2 linked regions of the Homo sapiens genome follow. The protein of the gene in region 2 purifies or fractionates together with the protein of the main gene of each other region. This does not show direct contact. Each region holds a gene or a part of one and is shown on either strand. Other genes may lie near its edges.

What was found. Proteins that work in one complex are often made in the same cells at the same time.
Region 1: the proteins of PCDHGA5 (region 2) and ITGA7 purify together in Homo sapiens (affinity purification with mass spectrometry; 2 studies listed by BioGRID and IntAct, with this or other methods). This does not show direct contact.

The regions. Positions count from the first base shown.
Region 1 is NC_000012.12:55,687,487-55,690,904, forward strand, and holds part of ITGA7 (integrin alpha-7 isoform 2 precursor), read right to left. Parts: intron 1,472-3,418; coding exon 1,358-1,471; intron 815-1,357; coding exon 716-814; intron 611-715; coding exon 485-610; intron 1-484. UniProt on the Homo sapiens protein: Integrin alpha-7/beta-1 is the primary laminin receptor on skeletal myoblasts and adult myofibers.
Region 2 is NC_000005.10:141,507,162-141,510,318, forward strand, and holds part of PCDHGA5 (protocadherin gamma-A5 isoform 1 precursor), read left to right. Parts: intron 1-3,157. UniProt on the Homo sapiens protein: Potential calcium-dependent cell-adhesion protein. May be involved in the establishment and maintenance of specific neuronal connections in the brain.

The sequences.
Region 1 (3,418 bases), on a different chromosome or scaffold from region 2:
CTTTTTTTTTTTTTTTTTTTTTTGAGATGGAGTCTCGCTCTGTCACCCAGGCTGGAGTGCAATGGCGCCATCTCGGCTCACTGCAACCCCACCTTTCGAGTTCAATCGATTCTCCTGCCTCAGCCTCCCAAGTAGCTGGATCTACAGGTGCGTGCCACCACGCCCAGCTAATTTTGTATTTTAAGTAGAGATGGGGTTTCACCATGTTGTCCAGGCTGGTCTCGAACTCCTGACCTCAAGTGATCCACCTGCCTAGGCCTCCCAAAGTGCTGAGATTCCAGGCATGAGCCACTGCACCCAGCCTGCATCTGATTTATCTTTGAAACATCCAGGGACTAATAGAGTTCCTGAGACATGCAGGGCAAGTGTTCAGTGCAGATTTGCTGAATACATGAGTGTGTGGGTGGGTGACAGAACCACAATACAAAATGCTGCTCACCCAACCAGGAAGTCCACCCCCATCAGCCCCACCTCCAAGCCTCACCTTCCACAGGAGCAGCACCAGCAGTGCTAGCACCAGCAGCCCAGCCAGTACAGCCAGGAGGATGACCCACCAGGGCACTCCTTCTGCCACCACAGCCATGGGGTCCAAGTATACCATCACTGGGATCTGGGGAGCAAGGGGTCAATGGAGCAAGAGGTCAATGGAACAAGAACTGGAGGGAGCAGGAAAGAAGAGAGTCCTCCCCACCTATCCCCCAACCCTGCAGCTCACCACTGTGGAGGCATCTCGGAGCATCAAGTTCTTTATGGAGGACTTCACTGTGATGTTGGCCCGGACAATCACTTCCAGGGACTTCACAGCTGAGTACTCCTAAGGGAACAGGGAAGGAGACCCTTCTCCTAAATGCCCCATGTCTCCCTCCCTTCCCCTTACCTCCTGAAATTATAAATGTAATGGTGCCCAACACAGAGGATGTTTCTGCCTGGTTTGGGTTAAGAGTATGCTGCGTTTGGGCTGGGCACAGTGGCTCACACCTGTAATCCCAGCACTTTGGGAGGCCAAGGAGGGTGGATCACCTGAGGTCAGGAGTTTGAGATCAGCCTGGCCAACATGGCAAAACCCCGTCTCTATGAAAAATACAAAAATATCGGGTGTGGTGGCACGTGCCTGTAATCTCAGCTACTCAGGAGGCTGAGGCAGGAGAACCTCTTGAACCTGGGAGGCAGAGGTTGCAGTGAGCTGAGATCGCACCACTGCACTCCAGCCTGGGGGACAAAGGAAGACTCCGTCTCAAAAAAAAAAAAAAGGGGGGGGATGCTGCATTTGGACAGTGAGGAAGGAGGAGGAGAAATGAGTCCTGGAGGGGCTTTGGAGGAAGAAGAAACACAGACTAGAGCCGAGTGGTATCCTCACCTCCAGAAAGGTGCTGTTCCAGAGACGGCCCCAGACATGCAGCACAGCCGCGCGGTCAAAGCTGTAGAGTGGGCAGCTGAACACCACACAGTTGGCCGTGCCCCGGGCGCAGTCCTAGGGATAAGGACAGACAGGGGTCTAAGCCACTCAGCTCAACCCTGCTGAGACTGCCATCTCTCCCATTTTCCTTACTTGACCTCAAACTCCCCTCCTCCAGGAAGTCTTCTCAAACTAATCTTATATCCAAAATAGCTGCCTGCCCCAAATCTGAGCTATTCAGCTTTGAAATGCGTGGAGGGGGCAGCATGGAAGGGAATCTCTTACTTGACAGCACAGGCAGAGTAGCTTCCCCAAGTGATGCTTATGTTACCTAATGACAGTCCCATTTATTGAGCACCTACTACTTGTCAGGCACTTATCTCACTTAAGCTTCGCAATAGTCCTACAAGGTGCACATTATCATCCTCATTTTTCAAAGGAAGAAACTGAGGAGGCCCAAGGAGGCCAAGCGACCTGCCTCAGGTCACAGCACTAGCAAAGCTAATGAGTGGTGGAGCAAATATTTGAACTCAGGTCCATATTCGGCAAAGCCACACCCCTGCCCTAAACCCAAACTCGCTGAAGGAGGAGGAGGTAGCCTCAGGAGCTCCTGGGTAGACAGGGGACTCAGGCTCTGTTCTTTCCAGGACTGACCTAAATCCATTTGGCCCAATCACCACCTCACGACCCATTTGCCTGAAAGTTATGTTATATTCATCACACCACGATCCAGACACAGAAGAATGGCTTTAAGAGTGTCTGAATTATTTGAGTTATCTTTTATTTTGCCACTTTTGAGCCATTCAAGAATCCTTAGCCAAGCTGTCTAAAAGCAAGGCCTTCTGCCTTTTTAGTAAAAGAATCTACTTTAGTACTAGTACCAAAACAGAGATATAGATCAATGGAACAGAACAGAGCCCTCAGAAATAACGCCACATATCTACAACTATCTGATCTTTGACAAACCTGAGAAAAACAACCAGTGGGGAAAGGATTCCCTATTTAATAAATGGTGCTGGGAAAACTGGCTAGCCATATGTAGAAAGCTGAAACTGGATCCCTTCCTAACACCTTATACAAAAATTAATTCAAGATAGATTAAAGACTTAAATGTTAGACATAAACCATAAAAACCCTAGAAGAAAACCTAGGAATTACCATTCAGGACATAGGCATGGGCAAGGACTTCATGTCTAAAACACCAAAAGCAATGGCAACAAAAGCCAAAATTGACAAATGGGATCTAATTAAACTAAAGAGCTTCTGCACAGCAAAAGAAACTATCATCGGAGTGAACAGGCAACCTACAAAATGGGAGAAAATTTTCGCAACCTACTCATCTGACAAAGGGCTAATATCCAGAATCTACAATGAACTCAAACAAATTTACAAGAACAAAACAAACAACCCCATCAAAAAGTGGGCAAAGGACATGAACAGATACTTCTCAAAAGAAGACATTTATGCAGCCAAAAAACACATGAAAAAATGCTCACCATCACTGGCCATCAGAGAAATGCAAATCAAAACCACAATGAGATATCATCTCACACCAGTTAGAATGGCAATCATTAAAAAGTCAGGAAACAACAGGTGCTGGAGAGGATGTGGAGAAATAGGAACACTTTTACACTGTTGGTGGGACTGTAAACTAGTTCAAACCTTGTGGAAGTCAGTGTGGCGATTCCTCAGGGATCTAGAACTAGAAATACCATTTGACCCAGCCATCCCATTACTGGGTATATACCCAAAGGACTATAAATCATGCTGCTATAAAGACACATGCACACGTATGTTTATTGCGGCACTATTCACAATAGCAAAGACTTGGAACCAACCCAAATGTCCAACAATGATAGACTGGATTAAGAAAATGTGGCACATATACACCATGGAATACTATGCAGCCATAAAAAATGATGAGTTCATGTCCTTTGTAGGGACATGGATGAAATTGGAAATCATTCTCACTAAACTATCACAAGAACAAAAAACCAAACACCGCATATTCTCACTCATAGG
Region 2 (3,157 bases):
GGCTGTCCTCTTCCTCGAGCTCTGCTTTATTCTTCCAGATCAGGGTTGCCAGATAAAATACAGGATGCCCAGTTACAGTTGAATGTCAGATAAACAGCAAGTACTATTTCAGCATAAGTCAGTCTCAAATGTTGCATGAGACATAATGTACTAAAAAAAAAAATGCTCATTGTTTACCTGAAATTCAAATTTAACTGGGAGCCCTGTACTTTTATTTACTAAATCTGGCAACTCTACCCCAGATGTCTGTGAGGTTAAGTGGGGCCAGGCCTACAGCTGACGGAAGGACAGAGAGAGAGGTGGCAGGGACTGCTGGCCTCCTGAGGCAGAGCTGTCCCAGGTCTGGTGGGGCTATGATTCCAGAGAGGCCAGAGACTGAGTATGAAAGTGGCAGGCGGCTGGGTCTGAGGAGATGCCAAGTTGGCCTCTTGAGGGAAATAAACAGGTATATTTAGCTGTTGTGGCCTTGCGCCCTGAGGCCAGGAAGCAGCTTTTTAGCCTAAATCCAGATGTTAAAAACAGAAATGAAATCAGTATTTATGGCCCCAAACCCTCCAAGCAAGTCATGCAGCTCGTTCCCCTGTCAAGGCCTCCCACCTTTGGCCCACACAGGGCCTGACCCTCGTCTAAGCCTGCGCCCTGGGGAACGGACCCTGGGGGTGGAGGTGGTGGGTCAGGCCCTGCTCTCACTTTCACACCCGCTTCCTAGCCCTGAAACCAGAGAGGTTCCTGAAGTCCAGCCCAGCCAGGCCTGTGGGGCTGCTGAGAGGGGTTAAGTAAGAGGGAGAGTAAAAACCGACACTTGGGAGGAGGCTTTTAAAATAAACATCTGCGGGGAGGGATGCTCTCAAGGAGGCTGCGGTTTGCAGCTCAGCCAGCTGTGTTCCAGCTAATCAGCCTCCTTGGGCTACTCTGGAGTTGCTGCCTTGGCCCTGGGATGGGGTAGGTTAAGAGGACAGAGGGAGGTCAGGGAGCTGGGGGCTGAGTTTCCCTGAGTAGAGGCTGGCACAGGAGAGAAGGCATCACCCCCACCTCGTCCAGGCCAGAAGATGTCCAGCTTCTTGAGGCTCTCCTAAGTCTGCCTCTCCTGGGACCAAGAGAAAATCCCGGTCCTTGACCAAGGTGGGCCTTGGGGGGAGTGGGGTGTAGAGGGAGGGGCACTGGAGAACTGACTCTACAGAAAGTCAAAGCTGGCAATCCAACTTCTTCCCCTCAGATTTATAGATGGGAAAACAGGCTTGAGCCACGCAGAGACTTGACCAAGCTCACACAGTTCCTTAGTGGCAGAGCAGAGCAAATATTCTCTTTCTTTTACATTCTGGATTTCCATATCTTCTCTCCCTCCTGGTCCAGCCCAACCTCAGGGCACCCCCCACGAGGTGGGCGGGGGATGGCTTTGTCACTTGCACCCACTCGGGGTGCTACTCAGAGATCTTGGGTGCACATAGGACGTGGGTGGGCCGAGCTTCTAGCTACTCCGTCAGGCCCTTCCTGTCATTCTGTCTCTGCCTCCCTTCTCCCTGCTTCTCCGTGTTCCTCCTCATTCTTTTCTGTGTGCAGGGAGACTACACCCCCCACCCCGCTCTTTCTCTGGCGCCTCTGAGGTCCCCCCTCTAGCCCCTAAATCACTCTGGAATCCTGGCTCTTTGAAGCCAGATCTGGGCCCCCCTCCCCTACCCCTTCCATTCCCAGGCTGGGAAAGGCTGAAGAGGCTGACGGCTGGAGGGGAGGGGGCGGGGCGGTGGCGGATCTGGCTTCCTTTTGGAGTTAATTAGGGAAAACAGAGAAATGTCAGCGGAATGAAAGGGCTGGGGGTGGGGGCCAGCTGGGGTAGGAGAGGAGGAAGTGGGCAGCTGCTCCCTCCCACTCAACCCCTCTCCCCCGCCCCCAGAAAGCTCTCAGCTCCGGGGATTTGCGACATGAAATGGGGGCTGTAGAAACCTGAGCGCTGGTGCGTGAAGAGAAAAACCGAGGCGCATCCCGGCTCTCCCCTCCCGTGTGCCCTCCTCCTCTTATGCCGGCTTGAAAATATTTCCTGTCTCTCTATTTCTCAATCCCTGGTTGATGTCCCAGGATTACTCAGCCTCTCCGGCTTTAGTCACTCTCGCTACCCGCTCCCAGGGTCCAGGGTGGAGGCAGAGGGAGGCTGGGAGAGAAGCTCTACTGCCAGCTGGGCCTGGGCTGGCCTGGGCATCCCTGAGGTTTTAACTGTCTCCTAACCACAGAGGATCTCAGGGCCTCCAGCAGCGAGCCCCAATGAGTCAAACTCTTGTTTCCTCCTCTCCCACCCCCGACCCAGTCAGGGCAGGTGAGGGGTAGAGGTGATGGCATGCTGGATGTGACGGTGTTGATGATGTATTGCACAGGATGAAGCACCATCTCATTTAGTCCTCACAGCAGCCTTCACAGTGCGTACAAATCAGCTGGCAATTCCGAGAGGCTGCATTCTAAACAAGTTCCTGGGTGATGCTGAGCCAGGGCCAGAGTGTGGACTTCTCTGGGCCCCAGTTTCTTCTTCTGTACAGTGGGACGTTGGACTGGAGGTGCTGTCTGATGTCACCTAGCTGTGGCACTCTGAGCCTGTGCCTAAAGTGTCCCTGAGATGTCTAGTCCCCGAGATCATCATCTCCTCAGCTTCATAGAGCCGAGCTCTTCTCCATCTTCTCTCTACCTCCCATTCACTCAGAACAGGGATAAGGTCCAAGCTGCTGGTGGTGATGGTGACTGACTGTCCCTTCCAGCATGCGCTTAGGTACACTTGGGCCTGAATGCCCCTCTAACAAATGCTACCGGGTATGGCCTTGGTCCTTCTAACACTTGGTTCCCTCATCTGTAAAATGAGGGTCATACCACATAGCTGGCTGGGCTGTTATGTAGAGGTTAAAAGTGATTGTGCATGTGAAGCATCCAGCAGAGTGCCTGGCACACAGTAGGTGCTCAAATGCTGTTTTGAAATACAAAAATTAGCTGGGCTAGTGGTGTGCACCTGTAATCTCAGCTACTCAGGAGGTTGAGGCAGGAGAATCACTTGAGCCCAGGAGGCAGAGGTTGCAGTGAGCCGGGATCGCGCCACTGCACTCCAGGCTGGGCGACAGAGCAGGACTCCATCTTAAAAAAAAAAAAAAAAAAATGCTGTTTTGAAATGGAGGCTTGGAAG